Homo sapiens: one gene and its partners. The protein of the gene in region 1 interacts with the protein of each later gene in a pairwise test. Each region holds a gene or a part of one and is shown in the gene's direction. Other genes may lie near its edges.

Region 1 (6,556 bases):
GCTGATCTTGAACTCCTGACCTCGTGATCCGCCCACCTCAGCCTCCCAAAGTGCTGGGATTACAGGTGTGAGCCACCATGCCCGGCCCTAATCTTTGATTTTTTTGTAGAGATGGGGTCTCCCTACGTTGCCCTGGCTGGTTTCAAACTCTTAGACTCAAATGATCCTCCTGCCTTGGCCTCCCAAAGTGCTGGGATTACAGGCATGAGCCACAGTGCCCGGCCCAAAGAGAGAATTTAATATGACCTTCAACCCACCACCCAGACATAATGACTGGCAGCACTTGCTTGTTTTTGTTGTACTTGCTTTTGAGCACGTCAAGAGGCAGTTTCAAGTAAATCATGGAGGTTGAGTTACTGTCCTGAGAATGACAGTCCCAGAGTGCAAGGCCACCCTTGCTCCTATCTGGAGGTGTCCCCTCAATGCTCTTCCCTACTGTTATCAGCTTCCAGGTGGGTATCTGGAGCTCTTGGCATCTGGACCAGGATTTTTAGACATCAAGTTAAAGAACAACTAGAAGAAAATATAATTAAATATTGGCCAGGTACGGTGGCTCATGCCTGTAAACCCAGCACTTTGGGAGGACAAGATGGGCAGATGACTTGAGGTCAGGAGTTCAAGACCAGCGTGGCCAAAATGGTGAAACCCCAGCTGTACTAAAAATGCAAAAATTAGCTGGGCATGGTGGCACGTGCCTGTAATCCCAGCTACTGGGGAGACGAGGCAGGAAAATCACTTGAACCCAGGAGGCAGAAGTTGCAGTGAGCTGAGATCATGCCACTGTACTCCAGTCTGGGTGACACAGTAAGACTCTGTCTCAAAAAAAACAGACAAACAAAAGGCCAGGCATGGTGGCTCATGCCTGTAATCCCAGCACTTTGGGAGGCTGAGGTGAGCAGATCACGAGGTCAAGAGATCGAGACCATCCTGGCCAACATGGTGAAACCCCGTCTCTACTAAAAATACAAAAATTAGCCAGGCGTGGTGGCACGTGCCTGTAGTTCCAGCCACTCGGGAGGCTAAGGCAGGAGAATCGGTTGAACCTGGGAGGCGGAGGTTGCAGTGAGCTGAGATTGCGCCACTGCACTCCAGCATGGCAAGAGAGGGAGATTCTGTCTCAAAAACAAACAAACAAACGAAACACCGGCTGGGTGCGATGGCTCACGCCTATAATCCCAGCACTTTGGGAGGCTGAGGCGGGTGGATTACCTGAGGTCAGGAGTTCAAGACCAGCCTGGCCAAGAAGGTGAAACCCCATCTTTATCAAAAAATACAAAAATTGGCCGGGCGCGGTGGTTCACACCTGTAATCCCAGAACTTTGGGAGGCTGAGGCAGACGGATCACAAGGTTAGGAGATCGAGACTATCCTGGCTAACATGGTGAAACCCCATCTCTACTAAAAATACAAAAAATTAGCCGGGCATGGCAGCGGACGCCTGTAGTCCCAGCTACTTGGGAGGCTGAGGCAGGAGAATGGCACGAACCTGGGAGGCGGAGCTTGCAGTGAGCCGAGATCGTGCCACTGCACTCCAGCCTGGGCGGCAGAGCGAGACTCCATCTCAAAAAAAAAAAAAAAAAAAAAAATTTGCAGGGTGTGGTGGTGCACACCTGTAGTGCTAGCTACTAAGGAGGGTGAGGTAGGAGAAACCCTTGAACCCGGGAGGCGGAGGTTGCAGTGAGCCCAGATCGTGCCACTGCACTCCAGCCAGGGCAACAGAGACTCTGTCTCAAACAAACAAACAAAAAGCAAAAACTTCAATGAGTGTGAAAGTACATAATTAAAATCAAAAGAAAAGTACACAGACCCAAGTGACTAAATGGGCAGAGGCTTCAAATTGATAATTAAGAAGCCACACACAGCTGGGCATGGTGGCTTGCGCCTATAATCCCAGCACTTTGGGAGGCCAAGGCGGGTGGATCACTTGAGGTCAGGAGTTTGAGACCAGCCTGGCCAACATGGCAAAACCTGGTCTCTACTAAAAATACAAAAATTAGCCAGGCATGGTGGCAGGTGCCTGTAGTCCCAGCTACTTGGGAGGCTGAAGCACGAGAATTGCTTGAACCTGGGAGGTGGAGGTTGCAGTGAGCTGAGATCGCACCACTGCACTCCAGCCTGGGCAACACAGCAAGACTGTCTCAAAAAAAAAAAAAAAAAAAAAAGCGCCACACACGTATTAGTCACACTCCCTAGGCTAAGAAACCCAATAAAATAAGAAAGACCATTTCTCATCTCTCAAGTTAGCAAATATATGTGTGCACGTGTGCATGTAAATATAATTTTTTTCCTATGGGGATGCCTAATGGTGGCAATATTATACCCTGCGGGGGAGCTGTGGACAGTGCTTCTGGAGGACAGTTTGGTAATAGCTTTAAAAAAAATCAGGCCGGGCATGGTGGCTCACACCTGTAATCCCAGCATTTTGAGAGGCCAAGCAGGATGGATCTCTTGAGACCAGGAGCTCGAGACCAGCCTGGGCAACATAGTAAAACCCTGTCTCTACAAAAAATACAAAAAAAATTAACTGGGCATGGTAGTGCATGCCTGTAGTCCCAGCTACTGGGAAGGCTGATGCAGGAGGATCACCTGAGCCCAGGAGGTGGAGGCTGCGGTGAACTGTGATCACTCCACTGAACTCCAGCCTGGGTGAAAGAGTAAGAATCTGTCTCAAAAACAAAACAAAAATCTCAGGCCAGGCGCGATGGCTCACGCCTGTAATCCCAGCACTTTGGGAGTCTGAGGCGGGCGGATCACTTGAGGTCAGGAGTTTGAGACCAGCCTAGCCAGCATGGTGAAACCTGGTTTCTACTGAAAATACAAAAATTAGCAGGGCGTGGTGGCACACATCTGTAATCCCAGCTACTTGGGAGGCTGAAACAGGAGAATCACTTGAACCCAGGAGGTGGAGGTTGCAATGAGCCAAGATTGCGCCACTGCACTCCAGCCTGGGCAACAGAGCAAGACTCTGTCTCAAAAACAAAAAAACAGGCCGGGCACGGTGGCTCACGCCTGTAAATCCCAGCACTTTGGGAGGCCGAGGTGGGTGGATCACAAGGTCAGGGGTTCAAGACTAGCCTGGCCAAGATGGTGAAACCCCATCTCCACTAAAAATATAAAAAGTAGCTGGGTGTGGTGGAAGGCGCCTGTAATCCCAGCTACTCAGGAGGCTGAGGCAGAGAACTGATTGAACCCGGGAGGCAGAGGTTGCAGTGAGCCGAGATCTTGCCATTGCACTCCAGCCTGGGCGACAGAGGGAGACTCCATCTTAAAAAAACCAAACCAAAACAAAAAACGACCAAATGCAGTGGCTCATGCCTGTAAATGCCAGGACTTTGGAAGGCCGAGGCGGGCAGATCACTTGAGGTCAGGAGTTCCAGACCAGCCTGGCCAACATGGTGAATCCTCATCTCTACCAAAAATACAAAAATTAGCTGGGCGTGGTGGCACACGCCTGTAATCCCAGCTACTCAGGAGGCTGATGCAGGAGAATCGCTTGAACCCAGGAGGTGGAAGGTGCAGTGAGGCGAGATCACGACATAGCACTCCAGCCTGGGCAATACAGGGAGACTCCATCTCAAAAAACAAACAAACAAACAAAAATCCCTGCTCTTGGATCCAGTAATTCCACTTCTGGGAATTAAACTATCAGGAAATTGGGAAAAAACCTTCATATTCAACGGTGGATGTCCTGGGGGTTAATTTCAAAAGGGAACTGCAGCGGTGAGCCAAGATCGCGCCATTGCGCTCCAGCCTGGGCAACAAGAGCGAAACTCCGTCTCAAAAAAAAAAGGGGGGCGGGGACTGCAAACAACCTAGATGCCCAGGCAGCCTCAGGGAGATGTGTGAAGGGAGAGACCTCAGAGGCATGTGCAACAGTATAACAAAGAAGGGTCTCCCCAACAGTAAATGTTGAATGAAAACAGCAGGGTTCACACATGTACAGCAGAGTCACACTGAGTATGTTAACAAACACAGAACCAAGGCCAGGAGGGAAAGGCACCAGAGTGGCTACAATAGGGCTTTCTGACCAGAAGATGCCAGGCATTGGGTCTGCAGGGAGAACTGACAAAAGAGGCAGGACTGAATTCCATTTGCTGCAGGTTTAGCATTCAAGGCTGATAAACTGCTAGAAATAAGCAGGCAGAGGAATGCCTGAGTGAGTCCCTGGGGTGCTTGGAAGGAAACAAATCAAATGTACCTGTTGCTCCTGTATACAGAATAAGCCTGTAAGGGTCTGGGATCATCCTGGATCCAAATCAAGGGTAATTCCTGAGTCAGTTTTAGGGGATTTGGAACCAAATGTCCCACTATCCCTATCATCCGCAAGTCCTTGCTGCCTGAAGCCACCTGGTAGAAGGAAGGGGGTTGACCCACCACTGGCTAAATCAGCCTGCGCTGCCCCTGCAGACTCCGTGGCGCCAATGATGCCCAGCCAGAGGAGCAGGGGGCCATTGGCCCCCAACCACGTGCATGAGGTATGCCTGCACCAGGTGGAGTCCATCAGCGACCTACATAGTGGAGGTGAGTGGGGACAGTGGGGTGGATGATGTGCTGGGGGAGGGGACGAAAGCAGGTGCACCCACCACCCTCCCAATGTCCCATCCACCCAGCAGGCACACTGCGCCCCTATCTAACTGAAGAGGCACGACCGTGGGATGAGCTGCTGGGCGTTTTGCCGCCGTCACTGTGTGCCCAGGCTGGCTGCAGCCCTGTGTACAGACGAGGAGGGTTCCTGCTGCTGCTCGCGCTGCTGGTGCTCACTTGCCTAGTGCTCGCACTCCTGGCTGTCTACCTGAGCGGTATGGACGCATAGGGTGCTAGTAGGAATGGAAAGCAAGGCAGTGGGGACTGGGAGGCCCTTCTGTGCAGCTGGAAGGAGTAACTGCAGATGCTGCAGCAGTGAAGGATGGGGCGGGAGGCCCGTGGCTGCCCCTGGTCCTGGGCTGGGTCTGCAGGGGTCACGGGGTGGCACATGGTCTGATGATCCCCCACTTCCCATTCACAGTGCTGCAGAGTGAATCCCTGCGCATCCTGGCACACACGCTCCGCACGCAGGAGGAGACACTACTCAAACTCCGCTTGGCCAGCCTCAGCCAGCTTCGGAGGCTCAACTCCAGTGAGGCCCAAGCACCCAGCTGAGATGCCATTTGGATCTGGGGCCTGGGGGTGTGTGTTGGTGGGGGAATAAAGTGGCTATGGGCAGGTCTCTCCTTCCCTACTGCTGGCTGCCACATCTACACTATTTCCTTGGTGAGATTTTTGTACAAGAACCTGTTGTTAACTTAATGGCTGCCTCCCTCTCCTGATCTCTTCAAGCCAGGCCTAGCCAAGCCTCTGGTGCCAAAGCCTCGCTTTGGGTGGCCCAAGGTCAGGGGAAGGGGCACCAGCCTCCTGGCTCCTCCTGTGGCCTGTCAACACTCTCTGGCCACCCCAGATGGCAGGTTCTGAAGTCTAGAAATAGCTGCCCCCATAGCAATCACCCAAACTCTGCCAGGGCTCCCAGTGAGGGTCCAGCCTCAGCTCTTAAAGACAGGCTGGGCTCTGAGTAGGGGGAGAGGCACCACCTGGGGAAGACTGCCTTGGAGGGCAAAGGTGACATCGTGGAAGACCAGTTGGGCCCAAGCCTGGGATAGTAGATGGGGAGGGAGAACAGAAAAATACCCAGGGGTTAAGACCACAGAAGGCTGACCGTTCTGTTTAATTATCTGTAATAATCCTTAAAAATCAGCACACAAATCCATTCCAGGTAGCTTTGCCACCCCACCTGCTGTGGTGGCATTTGTCCAGATGCCACCACCCCCCTAAGAGTGGGTCATCCTGGGGGAGCAAGGCCTGAGAAAGGAAAGGAAGGGAAAGGCCCCCTAGTGCCTGCCCCACAGCCCTGAGGAAGGCACATATTTAGCCTGGCCTGAGACAGGACAGGAAGGGGCCACAGGGCTGAGTGCAGGGACAAAGGGGTCAGGGTCCCAAGTGTCCGGGCCCCCAGCTACCCACCCCATGTCTGTTTTTGGTTTTGTCATTAAAAAAAATAAAGTGACAAATACTGGTGGAGACCAGTTGTTGCACTGTCTTCTGTTAAAAATACGGACCAAGGGCATAGAAAGTCTCCTCTTCAGCAGGTCCTGCTTCACAGGATGTCTGCCCGCTTGTCCCGCACACGGCTTCGAGCCTTGGTCCGGGCTTTGAAGGCAGCAGCATTGTACAGGTGCTAGAGTGGGGACAGAGAGTGACACCCTGGGGAGCTGGGAAGGGAAAGGGCTGGGGGTCCTCTTCCGGCCTCTACAGAATTCCAGGCCTCCAGGAAATGGGAATAGGGGGAAGAGAAAGGTGCCCAAGGGTGCAAACCTTCTCAAAGCGTGGAACCTTGCAGGCCTTCAGGGCAGTGGCATCCAGCAACAGCACAGGGCCCAGGCCAAAGATGTCACGGAGTAGCTCATTGTTCTGGGGGGCAGAGGGCAGTGAGCTCAGGCCAGACTGAAGCAACCACACCAGATGTCCCCTCCCTGTCCGTCCCCGCACCTGGAGGTGGTGGTGCATGCCCGAACCCAGCACTTCCT
Region 2 (7,028 bases), on another chromosome or scaffold:
TGTTGGAGGGGTGGATTGTGGGAGCTGTTTACAGCCTCAGTAAGTTCTTCCCAATGGCCATGTGGATACTGGTTGAAAAGTAGCAAGAGTAGGCCAGGTGCGATGGCTCACGCCTGTAATCCCACCACTTTGGGAGACTGAGGTGGGGGGATCGCTTGAGGTCAGGAGTTCGAGACCAGCCTGGCCAACATGGTGAAACCTCATCTCCACTAAAAATACAAAAATTAGCCAGGCGTGGTGGTGGGCACCTGTAGTCCCAGCTACTCGGGAGGCTGAGGCAGGAGAATCACTTAAACCTAGGAGGTGGAGATTGCAGTGAGCTGAGATCATGCCATTGCACTCCACCCTGGGCAACAGAGTGAGACTCTGTCTCAAAAAAATAAATAAATAAAAAGAAAGTAGTAAGAGTAAAAGTTGGGGAACAGAAGCCCTACATAATTGTTTAAGTGAGAGATGAAGGTGGCTTCAGTGAGAAGATAGCAGCAAAGGAGATAGAGAGGAGGGTGGATTCAAGAAGATTCAGGGGTTTAGCAAGTGAACTTGCCAGAGGATTGGATATGGGTGTGATAAGAAAAGAATCTGCTGGGCACAGTGGCTCATGTCTGTAATCTCACTTTGGGAGGCCGAGGTGGTTGCATCACTTGAGGTCAGGAATTCGAGTCCAGCCTGGCCAACATAGTGAAACCCCATCTCCACTAAAAATATAAAAATTAGCTGAATGTGGTGGCATGTGTCTGTAATCCCAGCTACTCAGGAGGCTGAGGCAGGAGAACTGCTTGAACCTGGGAGGTGGAGGTTGCAGTGAGCTGAGATTGCACCACTGTACTCCAGCCTGGGTGACAGAGCGAGACTCCATCTCAAAAAAAAGAGAAAGAAAAAGAAAAAAGGGCTGAGCAAGGTGGCTCATGCCTGTAATCCCAGCACTTTGGGAGGCCGAGGTGGGTAGATCACATGTCAGGAGTTCGAGACCAGCCTGACCAACATGGTGAAACCCCTTCTCTACTAAAAATACAAAAATTAACCGGGCATGGTGGCGTGCATCTGTAATCCCAGCTACTCAGGAGGCTGAGACAGGAGAATCGCTTGAACCCAGGAGGTGGAGGTTGCAGTGAGCTGAGATTGTGCCACTGCACTCCAGCCTGGGCGACAGAGCGAGACTCCGTCTCAAAAAAACAAAAACAAAACACAAAAAAACACAGGCCGGGCACGGTGGCTTATGCCTGTAATCTTAGCACTTTGGGAGGCCGAGGCGGGCATATTGCCTGAGCTCAGGAGTTCAAGACCAGCCTGGGCAACACAGTGAAACCTCATCTCTATTAAAATACAAAAAATATATATATATATTACCCGGGCATGGTGGCGTGCGCCTGTAGTCCCAGCTACTTGGGAGGCTGAGGCAGGAGAATTGCTTGAACCCGGGAGGTGGAGGTTGCAGTGAGCGGAGAACGTGACACTGCACTCCAGCCTGGCAACAGAGCGAGACTCTATCTCAATAAAATAAATAAATAAATAAATAAATAAATGAAAGTATCTGGAGAGGGATGTCCTTAGATGTCCCTAGAATCCTTCATGCAGAGACCTATCCCATCTTTTTCTCTCTGACTCTCCTCTTAGGCCTTATATGACCCCATCAACCCTGACAGGGAGACCCTCGATCAGCCATCACTAACGGATCCCCAGCGTCTGTCTAATGAGCAGGAGGTGCTTCGGGCTCTGGAGCCCCTGCTGGCCCAGGCCAACTTCTCCCCGCTGTCTGAGGACACCCTGGCCTACGCGCTGGTGGTCCACCACCCTCAGGATGAGGTCCAGGTACTTGGCTCCCTAGGAGAACAAAACTCCCAGGAGGCCTCTAGGGTGGGGCAGAGCCTCTGAGAGGCATGGGCTGCTGGGAGTTGTAGTCCTGAGCCTGGGACTGTGGCCCATATGGCGCACTTGGTGAACTCAGAGAAGGGGCTACTTTTGGCTGGATGCAGTGGCTCAAGCCTGTAATCCCAGCAGTTTGGGGGTCCAAGGTGGGTGGATCACCTGAGGTCAAGAGTTCAAGACCAGCCTGGCCAACATGGTGAAACCCCATCTCTACTAAAAATATAAAAAATTATCCAGGCATGGTGGCAGGTGCCTGTAATCCCAGCTACTGGGGAGGCTAAGGCAGGAGAATCTCTTGAACCCGGGAGGTGGAAGTTGCAGTGAGCTGAGATCGTGCCATTGCACTCCAGCCTGGGCAACAAGAGTGAAACTCCATCTGGAAAAAAAAAGGAGGTGCTGCTGTCTCAGGTCACTTCACTGCCATCTGTTGGAAAAGTATCATATGATATGGCTCTCTTAGGGCAAGAGACTTAGCACCATCTGCCAAAATTGTAATAATAAATAATATAATACAAGGCCGGGTTCAGTGGCTCATTCCTGTAATCCCAGCATTCAGGAGGCCGAGGCAGGAGGATCGCTCGAGCCCAGGAGTTCCGGACTCATCTAGGCGACACAGGGAGACCCCGTCTCTACAGAAAATACAAAAATTAGTTGGATATGGTGGTGCGGGCCTGCAGTCCCAGCTACTCGGGAGGCTGAGGTGGGAGGATCATTTGATCCCAGGAGTTTAAGGCTGCAGTGAGCTGTCAGCCATGATCTTGCCACTGCACTCCAGCCTGGATGACAAATTGAGAACCTGTCTCAAAAAAACAAAACAAAACACACACACACAGAGAGACACATTAAAAAAGAAAAAAAAAACCAAGCCCCTAAAAGCACGCAAAATGCTAACAAAATTATAAGAAATACTAAAATCAGCTGGGTGCAGTGGCTCACACCTATAATCCCAGTGCTTTGGGAGGCTGAGGTAGGCAGATCATTTGAGGTCAGGAGTTTGAGACTAGCCTGGCCAACATGGTGAAACCCCATCTCTACTAAAAATACAAAAATTAGCCAGGCATGGTGGCGGGTGCCTGTAGTCCCAGCTACTTGGGAGGCTGAGGCACGAGAATCACTTGGACCCAGGAGGTGGAGGCTGCAGTGAGCTGAGATTGTGCCACTGCACTCCCGCCTGGGTGACAGAGTGAGACAATATCTCAAAATAGAAATAAAAATAAAAACAGAAATAAAAAATACTAAAATCTCCCCAAATTCCACATTTTAGTGATTTTAAACTGCAGTTTTTCCAAAGTCATGTTTTGTCATCTCTGAAATTGGGATGTAATTTACAGGTGGTGGTGTGACATCATTTAATTGGCAACGTATTTTGTTTTTAGTTGCTTCATAAAATAATCAGGTAGAGTCAGTGGCACCTTAGATTCTAGGAAATATGGTAAAGATGACTTCTACGTGAATGGCACTGTGTTAGATCATGAGCCCTTGTGCAGTATACGACATGGACAACCATATGTGACAGCCCTGCCTAGATGGTGAATGGGGATAAGTGGGAAACGGGGGAATTATTTAGGGGCAGGACATCTGATTCTGGTATCCTGCCCTCAACACTCCTGCCCATGTTCACCCGCCACTGCTTCCTTCATCCCCCCGGCAGGTGACAGTAAATTTGGATCAGTATGTCTACATTCACTTCTGGGCCCTGGGCCAGCGAGTCGGGCAGATGCCCCTGAAGTCCAGCGTGGGCTCCAGGCGTGGCTTCTTCACCAAGCTGCCCCCTGCGGAGAGGTGAGGCGGCCCTTGTTCCCCAGCTGCAGCAAGAGGGAGCAAGGTTAGAGTCAAGAGGGGACTGACAGGTCAGTGTCTGGTTTGGGTGTCTGGGCCCCAGGCGGGAAGTTGAGAAATGGGAGGCGTGACTCATCCAAATGCTGTCTTTTCTTCTCAAGGGAAAGTGAGTACTACACTTGATTCCCAGGGGAAGAGAAAGGATGGGGACAGTTCTCCCCATTTTCCAATAAGGAAAACTGAGGCTCGGAGAGGGAGGTCCACATTCTGAAGATGCGGCACGGCCAGGATTCCAACAAACAATCTGCACGTCCAATACCAGGGATCGATGGCGCGATTGAACCGATCCCCTGTGGTTGGACACAGCTGATCCCTGGTTTCTTCCCCATGATTACTGAGTCGCTTTTAAGATGGTTGTGCGACTGTAGAGCCAGAGTGAGCGTCCTAGGATTGGAGGGGGCTCCCCGGGCAGTGCAGTCCCGATCCTGCTCCTGCCTCTGTCTCTGTCCCTCAGGAGATACTTTAAGCGGGTGGTCCTGGCAGCCCGGACCAAACGGGGACACCTGGTACTGAAGAGTTTCAAGGACACGCCGCTGGAAGGCCTGGAGCAGCTGCTGCCGGAGCTGAAGGTGCGCACGCCCACCCTGCAGCGCGCCCTGCTCAACCTCATGCTGGTAGTCTCCGGCGTGGCGATCTTCGTCAACGTGGGCATGGTGGTGCTAACCGACCTCAAGGTGGCCACCTCCCTGCTGCTGCTGCTCTTCGCCATCTTCATGGGCCTGCGGGCCTCCAAGGTGAGCATGCGCCTGCCACGCCTCCTGCGGCCCTGCGCTGTGGGGACCAGGTCAGGCCCCCTGTAGTTGTCTCTGTTTCATGCATTGTTCCTGCGTCATGCTCTCCTCCCTCCCTCCCTCCCTTCCTTCCTTCCCATTCTTCCTCTTTTCTTTCCCTTCCCTTCCCTCCCTGTCCTTCCTTCCTTCCCATTCTTCCTCTTTTCTTTCCCTTCCCTTCCCTCCCTGTCCTTCCTTCCTTCCTCCCTCCCTTCCTCCCTTCTTTCCTTTCTCCCTCTCTCTCCTCCCCTTCCTTTTCCCCTTTCCCTTCCCTTCCTTCTTCCCCTTCCTTCCGCCTCCCCTCCTCTCCCCTCCCCTCCCCTTCCCCTCCCTCCCTCCCTTCCTTCCTGTTCCTCTTTTCCTTCCCTTCCCTCCCTCTCCCCACCTCCTTCCTCCCCCCTTCCCTTTCTCCCTTCCCTCCCTTCTTGCCCTCTCCTCCGCTCCCCTCCCTTCCCCTTCCCTTCCCTACTTCATTTACTCAACACCCCTTAGGGGGGTTTCTTAATCTCTCTGAGCCTCAGTTTTCTCATCTGGAAAATGGGGATGATAGCGAGATCTGCCTTGTAGGGTTGTGAGCATGAAATGAGTGAGTCTGTGAGAAGCACTGGGCAGTGCTCGGCTCGTGGTAGGGGCTACATAAGGGTTGACAGCCGCTCACTGAGTGCCGGCTTTAGGGGCGCTTTAGTGATGCGGTGAAGGGGGTGTGTTCTGGAAGCAGACTTCCTGGATTTGAATCTGACTCTACTCTCTTCTCGCTGTGTGATCTTGAACAAGTTGCTTAACCTCTCTGTGTCTCAGCTTCAAAATCTGCAAAGTAGGGATGATGGTGGGACCTAACTCATAGAGGTGTTGTGGGGATTAAATGAATTAACATGCACAGTGCTGAGAATAGAGCCTCCCACATGGCACAGGAGGTGCTATGTGAGAGTTAGCTATTACCAGGATGATGATTATTATCATTACTAATTGGGCTGTTTGTTCCAAGTCCCCATCCTGACTGGGTATCATTATCACTGGGGGAGCTGGCTGACAAATGCAGCCTCCTGGGCTCCAGTCCTAGTGGACTGAATTGGAAACTCTGGGACTGGGGCCCAGGGAACTATATTTTTAACAAGCTCCCTTTTGATTCTGCTACATGTGAGTGCCGGGCTGCCTTGAACAGTTGCACAGGTTGTTCACCATCCAAGGATTCGTGGCCCAGGGGCCAGGTGGAGGCTGACACCCAACTTGTGCTCCGCTTGCCAAAATGCGTGTCCTGTCTCGAGGCTGAGTCAGCCCAGAGGGGAGCTGCCTTTTACTGATTCTTCCCAGGGTTGGCACCGGCCCCAGGAGTGTAGACTGGTGTGAAGCATCTGTCGTACGCGATCATTCACCTGCTGGCTCATTGGTTTTCAAGCTGTTTTCAGCCATGCTGACAGGCTCTTAGGAAGGCTGGTAATAAATCCCGCAGATAATAGCCAGGCTGTGCCGCCTGAGAGGGTGCTGGCATACTTGGGCCAACAGAGGGGCTGGGGAGGGAGCAATTTCTGCTTGGGACCAGGGCTCAGGTAGGATCTGAGGAAAGCTCTGGAAGACAGGAATTGAGCCTGGTGGAGAAAGAGCCCACGAGCTCAGCCTGGCGTATCTCATGGGGCTGGATCCAGTGAGCAGGGTAGAGAGGGGAAGTCCCAGAGGGTGGTGAGGGCCTTGAATGCCCAGAGTGGTACCCAAGGCCTTATCCTCAGAGCCGCAGGGAGCTGTGGAATGGCTGTAAGCTGCAACCATGGAGGGCAGAGGGGAGGGGCGAGATGAGAGGCAGGGAGGCCCGGTGCCTCTGGGGAGAAGACACTGAGTCCCAGCCCACGGTGACTATTGCCTCACCCCTTGCTGGCCCTTGGGGTGCTATGGAGCCTGTCAGGCTCTGAAAGACCCTATTTCAAACCCAATTCACACCAGGCATGGTGGCACATGCCTGTAGTCCTAGCTACTCAGGAGGCCAAGGTGGGAGGATCGCTTGAGCCCAGGAGTTGGGAGTCCAGCCTGGGCAACATAGTGAAACCCCAAATCAAAAAATAACAATAAAAAAGCCCAGCCAGGCGCAATGGCTCACACCTATAATCCCAGCACTTTGGGAGGCCGAGGCGGGTGGATCACGAGGTCAGGAGTTCAAGACCAGCCTGGCCAAGATGGTGAAACCCCATCTCTACTAAAAACACAAAAATTAGCTGGGCATGGTGGCACATGCCTGTAATCCCAGCTACTCTGGAGGCTGAGGCAGGAGAATCACTTGAACCCAGGGGGCAGAGGTTGCAGTGAGCTGAGATGGCATCACTGTATTCCAGCCTGGGCGACACAGTGAGACTCCATCTCAAAAAAAAAAAAAAAAAAAAAAATCCCAGTTGACAAGTTAATTTAGTGTATTCATGAATTCATGAGGTATTTCCCCACGCCTTGGGGTGAGGCCCAGCCTTTACATGTGGGCCCTTGGCTGGGTGCAGTGGCTCATACCTGTAATCCCAGCACTTTGGGAGGCTGAGGCAGGCAGATCACATGCAGTCAGGAGTTCGAGACCAG
Region 3 (7,028 bases), on another chromosome or scaffold:
GTGCTAGAGATACATCTCCACATAAACCTTTTAAACTCTTCAGGATTTTCAGTGTTGCTTGCAGTTGTGCTGTCGTTAGAGAATATTACTTTCAATATTTAATAAACCTCAAGCTATTACATAAGTGACCTCAGTCTAAGGGAAACCCAGGTGGAAGAGATCTCAGAGGTCCTGAAGTCTAGCAGCATTCCTCTCTATAGCAGCTAAGTTTGCTAAGATTGTTGTCTTGGGGACTCACAGTCAGCATCTTATGGCTAAAGGAATTGTGTGAAGAGAAGGACTTACATGCCATATGGAGGGAGGCTATAAAAATTGCAATTTTCTATTAAAGCCTCCTGCAATTAGAATGGTTCATGGTAATATTCTCTTTTTTCAGAATGTTTTGTGGCCACTGCTGACTAGCTTAATTTTGTCTACCTAGTCTTCTTGCACAAAGGATTTGAGGCATCTCACCAGAATGTGAACAATGTAATAAAAGAAAAATTTTAAAATTAGTTACAAAATAAAAACAGATCCAGGGAAAATATAGGCAGAACTGAGACATCTGAGGAGGAGAAAAGAGTGTTTGCAGATAAGCAGGGTATACATGGATGTACAATTCTTAAAATTGGGCCACACATTTGACTGTGAGCTTCCTGGCAAGCAAAGCAAAAAGAACGATTACAAAGTGGTCCACAGAAGGAAATATTTTTTTCTGGATAAGCCAAGTTCTCTAGAGCCTTAGTTGAAAATACTATTTGTGGGTGGTTCTTCATAGGCCTGTCTGGCTTCCTGGTGGCTGTGGTTCTTGTGAAGTTGAGTTCACAAGCCCAACCTCTTGTTTTTAACATCAGTGTTTTCTTCCAGGGACAATGACTCATTCTTCCCAGGACACTGGTTCTTGTGGCATTCAGGAAGATGGAAAGCTTTATGTGGTGGATTCCATAAATGACTTAAACAAACTAAACCTCTGTCCAGCCGGATCGCAGCATCTGTTCCGTATGTGTGCTGGGGAAGGCACAGCAGCCCTTCCTAGCTTCTAGGCTACCTAAAAATAGCCACTGCTGACTGGATGTGTGGGTGTGGTGGAGGGGGAGGGGGCATTAGGAAGAGGTTGGCACTGGAAATGTTATTTGTTGTTGGGCAATTTTGCTTTTGTTTTCTGAATACTTGACAGGATTATGGGCTTTCTTGGATCCTACACGAGATTTGAACTCTTGACTTCAAATATTCTGAGATCCTGTGGCGTTTCTGTCCCTGGAAAGGGGTGGAGCCTGCAGAGCTGGACTCCTGGAGGCTGGCTCATCCCTCTCCTAGTGACCATGGCTAGGTTACCGATGGGGACCACTTCCCACAGGAGTGTTGTTTTATAGCAGATTGCTGAGAGAATGCTCAATCCAGAGCATTTTCTACTTACAAGTTACAAATTGTGCAATTAAGGGTTGGAGAAAGGGGGTGGGGGGAGCAAAATAAAATCTGCTAAATACTAAGTGTGTATCTTGCCTCCTAAATATTATAAATGAGCTTTATCAGATCACTCTGAGTGCCATCTTTTCTAGCTTAAATGCTGACATTCAAACACCAGTGTTAATTGCTCACTTGCCATTTGTTTCATATGCACTCTAAACTTACTGTTCCAATTTTATATCTATTATTTCCTGTCTAAATCCTTTCCAAGTTCCTCCTTTTTTTCTTCATTTTAATAAGTTCAAATTTTCATCTGTTTTTATTGCTGTCAGTCTCAATAGCAGTAGAAGTTTAGGTGTCAGCCCTATGCTGTTGCTTTGATTAGGAAGCAAAAGTGGCTGAAGCGTATGGCATAGGATGTACTTATAAGGCATGGGACATAAGCCACCCATCTGTCCATAATCAAGTGGCACAGTGAGTGGGACCAATTCAACGTAGGAGAGTATGCAAAAAGTAATCCAGTGATCTCCACTACCCCAGGTTTCTGCGTTGCTTATTCACTGCAACAAATAATCTGGGTGTTATTAGGCAACTAGATCTTGCAAAACGGTGATTAAATGCAGTCAATTCTTGGTTTGAGTGAACCAAGCTGTCGATAAAATGTAGCTGCATTCTCAGTTCAACTGCAAAGCATTTAAAAGAACGTTGCTTCCAGAGCATATCCATCCAGAAGACAGCTTTAAAAAACCAAAATAGGTCAGGGCCATTTTTGTTTAAATGGATGTAGGCTTAACTGATTATTCCTATAATAAAAGAAGTTTCCAGGGAAATATCCCAGAGCATTCAATTGAGTCTTCCACCCAGCATAGGTATCCCACAACCAGCTCTGTTTTACTCCTGGGTTACTTTGGGAAAGGGTAATAGAACTTCTATCACTCTTAGCCTTTAACTTCTATATTCCCTCTCCCCACACACAAAAATTCATGTTCTGCTATTTCAGTGTTAAGACAGTCTTCAAAGAACTTTCCAAAGAGGTCTAAGGAGATAGCTTAACCCTGCTTATTCCTTGAATACCAATAGAGAAGAAGGTAAATAATTCACAAATTTCTCTGTGCCCAAAGACATTCCTAAAACAGAAGTCACGGCCGGGCGCCGTGGCTCACGCCTGTAATCCCAGCACTTTGGGAGGCCGAGGAGGGCAGATCATGAGGTCAGGAGATTGAGACCATCCTGGATATCATGGTGAAACCCCATCTCTACTAAAAATACAAAAACTTAGCGGGACGTGGTGGCGGGGGCCTGTAGTCCCAGCTACTCGGGAGGCTGAGGCAGGAGAATGGCGTGAACCCGGGAGGCAGAGGTTGCAGTGAGCCGAGATCAAGCCACTGCACTCCAGCCTGGTTGACAGAGCAAGACTCTGTCTCAAAAAAAAAGAGTCACTTTCTAGGCTTGTCAGAGAGAAAGTGGGTGTGTCCATTACTCACGGTCTAACACTGGGGTACTGTTCAGTTCTGCTGACAAGTTGTATGCTGAGCAGTTTTTGTCCTTGTTTTTTGTTTGTTTCATATTAGCTCTAGAGGACAAAATCCCAGTCCTTGGCACAAACTCAGGAAATGGAAGCCGGAGTCTGTTTTTTGTGGGGCTGCTAATTGTGCTGATTGTCAGCCTGGCACTGGTTTTTTTCGTGATATTTCTAATAGGTAAGTACCACCACAGGTTTCTTTTTTATTACTTGTATGCATTTATTCATAGCTGGTTAACTTTGCTCCCACAAAGTTTGCACCCTCCAGTCAATGCTTCCTGGTCATCAATGCTTACATTGAAAAAAGAAGGAATGCCTTGAGTGAACACCACTGGCTGAGGACAGGGTCCCTTGGCCACAAACCCACTGCAGAAGCCCATAGTGCCAGAAGTCCATGAATATGTATGTTAAATAATTCTATAGCACTTTAGTTTCTCACTTGGAGCCTCTAGCTGCCCAATGGAAGGCAACTTATTCTGGTTGATTCTAGCTTTACTTTATCCAATGCCTAGATTTCTCCACTAAATTCAGATCTATAACATCGAAACATTGAGGTTTCGAACTGAACTCGCTCCCAGGTTTTCTCACTTGCATATCATCCTAGACATCAATGAGAAGCACTTGAGGGCTTGTGCAAGGCCCCAGAGACAGTGTTGGAGATGTATAAAGGTGGCTTCTTTCCAATTTGATCCTGTCCAGGCAACCTACTCCTAATATAACCTGCTTTGTCTGCTCTTGGCCTGGGCCATGCATGTCGTGACCTTGAGTGGTGACTCAGGCTTCCCCACCTCAGCTTCTCAGTCAAGAGATCCTTCAAGCCTTCAGCGCCACCCTCCTCTCTGCCTTGGATGTGGGAGGGGTGCTGTCCACCTGCGGTGCTGTCTTCCCGTTCTGAGCGTTGCCTCTTCCCACAGAGCCCACCAGTTTCCTCTCTCATCTGGAATTATTTTGATTCTCTTCCAGATGACTTAAGAGCAGACAGAGCCTAAGGGAAGGTGTCATCTTTGATACCTTTTTGCCTGGGTGCACTGCACTGTCATTTCTTTCACCCTTGAGTGCTTTGTAGCCTTTGGAAGGGCTCTAATTTAATTTCATTCAGGATTAGAGGAGGCAGAGGTGATGATGACGATGAGAGAAGACAGGTGGGCAGAGTTCATGATGACCCTTTCACCGCTTCCAATCCCATTTCCTCCCCCAAAGACTCCTCCCTCCTTACAGCTTGAAGGTCTTTATCTAGCCTCTGGAGAAAAGGGTTGGGACTGGGAGGGAGGGGTCATGTTTAATTGCTTCTCTTGCACCGGGCTGATGACCTTTTGCATTTAGAAGCTAACATGTGTACTATTTTTACAATAGTTGCAAACTTGCATCTGATGATGAATTAGGGGAGGCTTGGCTACTGAACCAGCAATGCCAGAAAGAGCACATGCGCTAGTATTCTGAACCGTTACTCCAACATAAATTAATACTGGGCATGTCATCCTGCCACACCCGCCTGGGGGTAATGACGGAGTTAAACTATTAGGAAATTTTAGGTATGTCTACAGACATGTAAACAACCCTCTGCCAAATTCTTTTTTTCTGTGAGATAAGTAGCAAGATTGAGGGAAATAATACCAAATGCTATATATTGAGTCATTACTCTGTCCCAGACACTGTGCTAAGCCCTTGATACCTCTTTGCTCACAACCTCATAACAACTCTGTAGTGTAGAATCCATTATTATTATTATTATTATTTTTATTTTTAAGATGAAATCTCACTGTTGCCCAGGCTGGAGTGCAGTGGCGTGATCTCAGCTCACTGCAATGCCACCTCCAGGTTCAAGCGATTCTCCTGCCTCAGCCTCCCAAGTAGCTGGGACTACAGGTGTGAGCCGCCATGCCCAGCTAATTTTTGTATTTTTAGTAGAGATGGGGTTTCACCATGTTGGCCAGGCTGGTCTCGAAATCTGGACCTCAGGTGATCCTCCCGCCTTGGCCTTCCAAAGTGCTGGGATTATAGGCGTGAGCCACCGTGCCCAGCCAAATCCATTATTATTTTGGTTTTACCAGTGCTGAAACTGAGATTTAGAGAGATCTATTAATGTGCCCAAGGTCACGTTGCTAATAAGTGCCAAAATGGGGCTCAAGGATACTCCACTTGACATCAAAGACTATGTACTTTATCAACATCACTATGTTCCACTTTTATGAATAGCTTTTATTTTATATTTGCCTTGAGTGTTTTTTATTGAGAACAAAGTCATATTAAATGAGAAACAGAAAGATCAGGTGAATAAAGAAGAGTGTTTTTTTACTGGATAATTGCTCTGTGTTAGATACATTAAGTTTATTATCTTAAATCCTTCCTCTAGCCATCTTAGAAAATTTAACTCTGATAAGCAAACCTCAAAGTGTTCCATTCCGTATCTTATTGCCAAAGGTCCTGTGTATTTGGAAAATATTGTTCTTCCATTCTAATGGGTGGTCTGAGGGGGAATTATTACACATTCATTTTGGGCTGGTAATTCAGAACAAGCAGACTTATGTCAAAATAGGCTGGAACCCAAAGAATGTAATTTCTCAAATGAGCAAAAACCTTTTTCTGAGAATGGGTCTCAAAATAAAGCAACATAGCAATCACTTCTGGGAGGATAATCAAACATGCTGACAGCTTCCTTTGGTTGCTCACAGCAAGGTCTTTTTTAGCCATAATTGGTGTGAAGTTGCCAAAGGTAGTCTAGGTTGGCACCAAGAGATTGTAAAAACAATTCACTGGATAGGCAACTTCAGCCTTCACCAGTTTCTCTACTGGGCTTCTGGCATGCATGGATATGGGAACAGGGGATTTGCCAAGAGTGTCTTTCAGCATCAGCTGAGCACCAACATGGGGATCTGATGAATTTCAGTGGAACACAGTGGAAACCAATGTAACACAGTCTGTTTTCTGTTTTGAAGTTCAAACTGGAAACAAGATGGATGATGTGTCAAGAAGACTAACAGCTGAAGGAAAAGACATAGATGATCTTAAGAGAATCAATAACATGATCGTAAAGCGACTCAACCAACTCAACCAACTGGACTCTGAACAAAACTAAAGGAATGATTTTCTGAAAGCACCTGCTAACACCTTGAGCTTTTTACTTTCCTGGGAGTGTACAGGGTTAGGAACTGAGAAAGTGCACTTCCTCAGGCAACAGATGATCTGGTCAGGCAACCCACCCCTGGGGCCCACTTTCTGCAGCAAGATGGGAGCAATTCCAAGGCAAGTGGGTATGGGAATAGCAACTAAAAAGGGGTGAACTTGTCTCAGCCCCCTTTTATGGTAGGGCACTTCAACTTTAATGGGGTGGGCGGCTAGCAGGGAGGAGAATCAACAAAGCAAGAGAACTTGACTATGTACGTCCAACTTCTTACAGAAGGAGCTTTGCTACCAGAACAAGTTCACTGTGTCAATGAAGTTCATGACACCTCATGCACCTTTACAGATATCTGGGAAAGCCTGAGAAATTCATTGAGTTTTATGTATTGAAGGGAACCAGGTGATTACTCTTTTCAATAAGAGGGATTCTGCTCAGGTGATTAGACTTTGACTCTATTTCCCCAGGGACAGTGATGGGTGGGCCCCAGAGCTAGTTGCTGTCTGGTGTTTGCTGGTGAAAACATGAGCAGTAGTTATGTGGGGCTGAGAGTCAAAAGGGAAAGCCTAATTAATTCAACTAATGTTTATTAAGCTCCTACTCTGTGCAAATCACTCTACTCAAGAGGAGCTCACATAAGAGTGCAGGATAAAGAAAGGAGATGGACAGTTATATGTAATTATATAAACTTTGTGTATTTTGTTTCTCATGAAAAAACCCCTTTGGCACCCTGCTGATTGATTTGGAAGAAATCTGATAGATTTGTGGCCTTTCCTAAATTGCACTAGGAAATTATGTAGTTAGAATATTTGGAACCTGCATTAGTTCCAGCAATGAAAGTAAGACACACAGCATATGACATAAGACACAGTGTGAAATAAATGAGTTTAAAAAGCATATGAGTCTTAGAAAATCTTTTATTTAATATAAAAATATTCTACCGGTCAATTGAAGAATGTATTATGATTCTATCATTTTGGATTGATCAAAAACATTTGGGTT
Region 4 (7,049 bases), on another chromosome or scaffold:
AGAAAGAAAAAGAAAAAGAAAAAGAAAGAAAGCAATAACAGCCAGAAGAAAATGGGCTGGGTGTGGTGGCTCACACCTGTAATCCCAGCACTTTGGGAGACTGAGTTGGGCAGATTATCTGAGCCCAGCTACTCTGGTGGTTGAGGTGGGAGAATTGCTGGAACCTGGGAGGCAGAGGCTTCAGTGAGCCAGGATTGTGCCACTGCATACCATCCTGGGAGACAGAACGAGACTCTGTCTCAAAAACAAAGCAAAACAAAAAATTAGCCAGGTGTGGTGGCACACGCCTGTAGTGCTAGCTACTCAGGAGGCTGAAGTGGGAGGACCGCTTGGGTCCAGGAGGCGGAGATTGCAATAAGTCGAGCTTGCACCACGGCACTCCAGCCTGGGTGACAAAGCGAGACCCCGTCTCAAAAAAACAAACAAAAACAAACAAAAAACCCAAAAAACAACAAAAACACCCCCAAAAACCATAAAGAAAGCCAGAAGAAAGCCTGAGAGAGAAATAGAGAGAGGAGAGTTGGAGAAAGAAAGAAAGGAAAGGGAAGGAATACAACATTTCTGGTAAATTCTCAAATTTCAAAGAGGAGTTGTGAGGAACAAACATTCCTTTGACTTGGGAAGATACTGTGTAACTTTTTCCCCCATTCTATTTACCTTCCAAGCAGTGTGTGCTAATATTAATATTGACATCCCTGTTCATATAATAGCTTTGGGGAACATGTTGCATAGTTTGGGATTCTTTTCGGTTAACTGAGTTTGAACAAAAACAAGTTCAAGCTATTATTAGTTTTCTTTTCTGTGGGCTGTAGGGGCCAGACCTGCCTTAGTAGACTTCTTGTATCAGTCATTAAAAGCCTTCGTTTCATGCATTCATTAAAATGTTTACGCCGGTTCAAACTTGAAAATCTGCCCCAAATGGCAACGTGCCAGAAGTTGATTCTTGTTGCTTCCGAAAAAGGGGAAAATATCCCTTTGCTGGAGTAACATTTGCACTGGGTGAGAGAGACATTCCCTCCCAAGAATATATGGCTTTATTGAGTGAGGTCAAATGAAACTTTGTCCGGTTCTTTGCCCATGCAGAAAATGAATGTGTCTAATTTACCTTCCAAATGGGGGAAATGGGAGCAGAAAGGCAGCTTACTCGACATTGTTTGGAAAGACCATATAAACGCCAGGGGAGCTGTATCTCCAGCCCCATGTGGTTTTAGGCCCTGAACCGTTTACTGTCTGTAGTCTCAAAATTGTCTGCTCATAGCCAAAGGAACACTCAGGCTTAACGAGTTAATCACATCCAGAGGCACAAAAAGCTAGAACTTCAGCCAGAACAGATCCAATTGCTTTCCCAGACTGGATAACTTTGTTTTATAAAATAAGCTCAGTGATATTTCAAGGGTTAATTATAAGTCTTTAGAAATCCTGGACTTGCATTCATCTTTTAAAAATATTTACACAACTTGGCTTTCTATGGCACCACTCTGTGTGTGCATGTGTGCATGTGTGTGTGCGTGCATGTGTTTTTGCATGTGTGCATGGGTGTGTTTTCACAGCTCAATGCATTTAATATTTTCTCTCCAAACCTAGACATCTCCAAAAGCACACAGGAAGGTGAGATTTATCAGACCCATTTGGAAGGTGATGCTGTCTACTCACTTTAAGGTGAAATGGAGGCAGGCAGATGCCTCGCTCACAGCCACTGCCAGGTAGTAGGCGTGGAAACTGGGCCTCCTGCTTTCTGGGTCCTGTTTTGAAGCCCGTCCCTGAGCCCAGCGTCTCTCTTTGTGAAATCCATGGAAATCCAGATAGACTGAAGGATTCCTCTACTCAAGTACTTTAAGAAAAGTTCCTGATTTTTCCCCTTGTTAAGCCCGAGAAGGAGGTGGGAGGGAGAATGCCTCCCCTCTGCTATTCCTTGGCTCCAGGTTTCTCTTTAAGAAATGCAATCAGACCACATACTCCTCAGCATCTGAGAACACTTCCTCTGGAGTCCAGTTCTCCTTTCCAGGCAGCTGAGGGAAGAGAGACTTTAAAACTGGCAGAGGGCATCAGGGGTGAAAGGCAACCCTGAGAGTAGGAAAAGGCCAGGGAGACAGGCCGATTCCAGCAGGGGAGACTGGCCCATCTGGAGCGCCAGCACATGCCTGGGGATTTCCTGGCCTCACCTGCAGACACCCTCCCCTCCCTGAGGGTTGGGATGCTCAGAGATCACAGGGACTCTCAACCCACTGCTGGGAGTGGCCCCTCTCAGACAGGCATTTTTATTATCAAATGAGCAATGAGAGAGGGGAGAGGTGAGGAACTCTATGAGAAACATGCAGTCTTTTATCACGTCATCAGTTTTCAGTGAGAAAATCCAGACCTTCTTACTTTTACAGAGATAGAATTCAGTTCTCAGGGACTTGTGAAGATGCAGCATCATCAAATCATTGTGTGTGTGTGTGTGTGTGTGTGTTGTGTTTTCCTTATCATCCACCTTAGAAAATATTCTCCACATTCCCATGTTAAAATATTTTTTCCTAAAATCCATCCATCCACATGCCAACATCCTAAAGACAGTAATATAGGTTCATTGCAGAGGATTTGGAAAATACAGAATTGTGACCAGAACAAACTAAACTGCATCCATAATTTTATCATCGAATTTGATCAACATTTTGGTGAATAGCCACCAGTCTGTTTTCTATCTTTTTAGGGAATATAAGTTCCAAGAGGCAGGGATGTCATTCACTTCTGTGACTCAGTGCTCTGAATCAGGCCCAGTGAAGACTGACGTGCAGCCTGTATTGGCAGAATGAATGAATAAATACTACACACGCATATTTTGAATTGAAATAAGTTGTCAGGGTGCAGCAGAGAATAACAGAAATAGAATTGCTTGGATGTGCTGACCTAGATCCAAGCTGCTACTGGTAACGTACTGTATCTCCTTGAATAAGTCACTTCACCTCTCTGGGCCTGAGCTGCTTCTTCAGTAAAATAATCCTTGTAGCTAAGATTTGTTGAGCGCTCACTATGCACACTGCCATGAGCCCCTATATGTGTATTTCTCATCATAGCTCTATGAGTTACATACCTGCCATCTCCATTTTATGCATGAGAAAATAGGCATGGAGAAGTTAAGTGGTTTGCCTAAAGTCACACAGCAAATTTGTGGAGAGCTGGGCTTGAACTCAGGCATCTGGGCTTTTACTCTCTCCAGTGGAATGCCTGGGCTGTGGGATGAGATGACTTCACAGGCCTCTCCCAGCTCCAGAGTTGAGAGAGAGAGAGGAGTGGTGCAGGGAGGTAGTAGGGATGATTATGCTACTGGCCAAGTTCAAGAAAGTCAATTGTAGAACAAGGTCCAGCTGATTATTACAGAGAGCAAAGTTCTTAACTAGAGGACTTCCTCCTGGAATGTGGAGAGTCCACACGGGCACTAGCAGAGCATAATGAAAGACCAGGAATTCTCTGCTGTTCAATCAGTGCTCCATCACTCAGAGGCAGGGCTGCAAGAGCTCCTAGTGTGTCCCCTTCGCCTTCAGGGCCTCCCTGTACAGCCACCCACAGGACAGTGCACCAGGGTCAGGCAGGGAAGTAAATAAAAAAAGGAATCTGATAATTCCTGACAGTGAGCAGCAGCTGATGCTTTTAATGGGGGAGGAAGACTGGGAATCTCGCTTGATGATGACCTAGGACTTCAGTCAGCAGGACACTGGCCCCTTTCCTCCCCCTCCCAGGCTGAAACCTTGTGTTTTGCCTTATGTCCATGGTAACCAAGTCTCCTTTTTGGTGAGGAGGAATGGGCTTCAGTAAACAGATCTATTTGTGTGATCCTGTTACTCATTTGAAGCAATGTCCCTCCTTTTTTCCACTGTGGTCTGTGTGTCTGAGTCAGAGAGAGCCTACAACAGGGTTCTTTGAATTGATGGCTCACTCCCAGCCACTCTTGACTGACTGCCAGCTTAGCAGGGCGTAGCTTACCAACAAATCTTTTTTTTTTTTTTAAAGCCAGACTGATTCATAGAAACTCCTTTAAAACACGGTGAAAAGAAACCGCCCATTACACACCCCAGTACACCAGCAGAGGAAACTTATAACCTCGGGAGGCAGGTCCTTCCCCTCAGTGCGGTCACATACTTCCAGAAGAGCGGACCAGGGCTGCTGCCAGCACCTGCCACTCAGAGCGCCTCTGTCGCTGGGACCCTTCAGGTAGGACAGCTCCCAACGCTGTGGGGACTCTCAGCAAAACTTCTCCTTCCTTTCCACGGCTCTGCTTCTTCTGACCTCATCTTAGTTTTGCTTTTTCTTTTCTTCCTTCGCTATTTTTCTATGATCCTCTAAGAACCAAGTCCTTGAAACTTTTGGCTCAAAGTGGATACAGAGACAACTTTTTCTAGAAAGTTCAGAAAAGTGTATTTTGAGGACGGAGTCTGGGGAAATCAATGGGATGGGGCTAAAATCGTGCCTGGCAGTGACCGGGTTCTTGTTCTAGGATGTGGAGGGAGCAGGGACTTTGAAACAAACTGGGATAGGATCCTGTTTATGGAGGAAACACCACACACCTTGGAAATGACATCGGGAACTGGCCAGATGTTTTTCACCTCCTCCGTTTTGATTCCGATTGCTTCAGGACTTGAACTGTTACTCTGCTCGCTGGTTGTTGGTTGGGATTTTTTGGGTGGTGGTGGATAGATAACTGGTTTTCAGTTTATTTTTGACATTGCTTTTCCTGCCTGTTTGCTTCCCTATTCACTTCTGTTTAAATTTAAGTATTTTTTTTCTCCTCACAGGATGGGAAGAGGGGGATTGGTTTGTTTAAAGAAAACTGTTGGCCGGGCACGGTGGCTCATGCCTGTAATCCTAGCACTTTGGGAGGCTGAGGCGGGCGGATCACCTGAGGTCAGGAGTTCAAGACAAGCCTGGCCAACATGGTGAAACCCTGTCTCTACTAAAATACAAAAAGTAGCCAGGCATGATGGCAGGTGCCTGTAATTCTAGCTACTTGGTAGGCTGAGACGGGAGAATTGCTTGAATCCGGGAGATGGTGGTTGCAGTGAACTGAGATTGCGCCACTACACTCCAGCCTGGGCAGCTGAGTGAGACTCTGTCTCAAAAAGGAAAAAAAAGAAAAAGAAAAAAAATGAAAAAAGAAAACTGTTAGAGAGAGAAAGAGAGGGAGGCAAATGGTGTTTTAAATGAAACGTGGGAGGGGTTCACTTGGTCGAAGCAGGAGCTGATGAGGATTCCAGATGCCTTCTCTTGGCCAGATGTGGAGGGCGGGGGAGGCAAAAGGGAAGCTGGGTTTGGAGAAGAGGGTGGGGCAGGAGAACTTCATCTGTGCCTGTTAAAAATTGTTGAGTGGCTTTGTGCTTTCACCCCAGAAAGAGCTGCCTTTCAGTGCTGAGTGAAAAGATGGCATACCAGAAACGATAAAAGAACTTTTAAAAGAAAGTGGATGTGGAATTTCTTTGCATGGAAGGCAGTGATTGTTTTGAAATGCTTATCTTTTCTCTTGTTCCCGAAATGTGATTGTATAAATGCAAACACTCATGCTAATCATGAAATCTGGAGGAATGAAGAAGGGTGCTTTTTCTTTTTTTTCTTTTTTTCTTTTTTTCGGTTAGCATTTTGGGTGAGTGTCTACCGAGGTGTGGCCCATTTCAACATAGACACTGGTATATTTTTTCCCCAAGTAAACAAGATGAGAATGACAGGATTCAGCTTGTCTGACAAAGTTAGGCTTTTCCTTTAGAAAGGCAGTACGTTGGGAGAGAAGTTACATGTAATCAACCCTGTGTTGAGCAGGCAATGCTCCTTGTAAAACTGCCCCAAGGGGGACGATTGAGTAGGCATCAGGGCAACTTTTCAAGATGAAGGGAACTCCTACATTTGCTTCACATGTTTATTATTTCCACATTACATGGATGTGGATTAGCCATTATTAAATCAATAGTGTTAATATCCTGTGAAAATTATACAAATCTTTTAGTTCTGTGCAGGTTAAAACTAATAACCAGTCAACACACGGAAAGCCCTGACAATGTTGGGAGTGTAAACCATCATGAACTGCATTATTTGTGGCAAGGTTTCACATGATACTGTAGGTTTATAAAGGAGAAAATATGCTACATGTTACTTCCTGGAGTTTGAAGACAATTTAGAAAAATACCGTTCTGATTCCTGCTCTCTGCTCTTCCTCCAAGAAGTAGTGAAAGAGTCCCTTAGCTGTGAGAGTTTTTCTGGATTTCAGCTTTGACAATCCCGAAATGTGAGGGTTATTTTTCCCCCCCACTCTGCCCGCTGCCTCCCACCCTCAGGGGCAGATCCAATTCCACCCAGACTCCGAAGAATGGGGCGGGGGCGGGGGCTGCAGGACATCCTGTCTGGCGCCCTGGTCAGAGGGCCCCCCACATTTACATTGTTTGTGGGTACTAAACTGTCTTGGGAGTTGGCAAAAGGCCATCAAGAACCAACTTGGAGCAAATCACATCCTTAGAATCTGGCTATCTCCCAGGACTGCTGGGCAGACCGCTGGGGAAAGGAAAGAGATCCCTTCTGTGGAGAGTGGAAAGGACTCACTGTGCCTTCCTCAGCCCTTCCTGCTTCCTCCAGAGACCAGATTAGGCCCATCAAGTTCCCAGCCTTGTCAGTGGGCTTCATGGAGACCCCTCACCCGGGAATGTAGACCCTCTTGGCTTGCTCTGGGTGGCTCTAGGGATTTCAGGTAGTGCCAGACCCACAGGGACTACTGGAGAGAGACACGTTGAAGACCGGGGAAAACTTGTGGATGAGGCAAGACTGCTTTTCTGTAGACTCTATGGAGCCTGGTGGGGCACATAACTGAAACGTGGACACAGGAAAGGGCAGGAGGCAAGTCAGTTCCATTTCATCCTTCATTTCGTTCACAGAATTCTAAATTTGGGAGGGATCTTGGATCTCATTCATTCTCCTACTGTATGCAGAAATCTAATTTTTACACCATCTTGAACAGATGGCCATCCTACAGATCTTAAAATTTCCAGATGCGGGGAGCTCAGAACCTCAGTGTGTACCTCCACACTCATTCC

What was found.
Region 2: the proteins of LSMEM2 (region 1) and TMEM143 interact in binary tests that used the Homo sapiens proteins (3 or more experiments, as listed by UniProt).
Region 3: the proteins of LSMEM2 (region 1) and LSMEM1 interact in binary tests that used the Homo sapiens proteins (3 or more experiments, as listed by UniProt).
Region 4: the proteins of LSMEM2 (region 1) and EMP1 interact in binary tests that used the Homo sapiens proteins (3 or more experiments, as listed by UniProt).

Annotation. Positions count from the first base shown.
Region 1 is NC_000003.12:50,282,065-50,288,620, forward strand, and holds the end of LSMEM2 (leucine-rich single-pass membrane protein 2), read left to right. Parts: intron 1-4,406; coding exon 4,407-4,520; intron 4,521-4,609; coding exon 4,610-4,798; intron 4,799-5,004; coding exon 5,005-5,138; 3' UTR 5,139-6,050; downstream 6,051-6,556. Other genes in the region: IFRD2 (interferon-related developmental regulator 2), read right to left, coding at 6,127-6,207, 6,345-6,440, 6,519-6,556.
Region 2 is NC_000019.10:48,339,941-48,346,968, reverse strand, and holds part of TMEM143 (transmembrane protein 143), read left to right. Parts: intron 1-1,614; coding exon 1,615-1,809; intron 1,810-3,517; coding exon 3,518-3,648; intron 3,649-4,159; coding exon 4,160-4,439; intron 4,440-7,028.
Region 3 is NC_000007.14:112,483,966-112,490,993, forward strand, and holds part of LSMEM1 (leucine-rich single-pass membrane protein 1), read left to right. Parts: exon of another isoform or gene 1-846; 5' UTR 847-851; coding exon 852-978; intron 979-2,957; coding exon 2,958-3,086; intron 3,087-5,844; coding exon 5,845-5,984; 3' UTR 5,985-7,028.
Region 4 is NC_000012.12:13,192,682-13,199,730, forward strand, and holds the start of EMP1 (epithelial membrane protein 1), read left to right. Parts: upstream 1-4,044; 5' UTR 4,045-4,191; intron 4,192-7,049.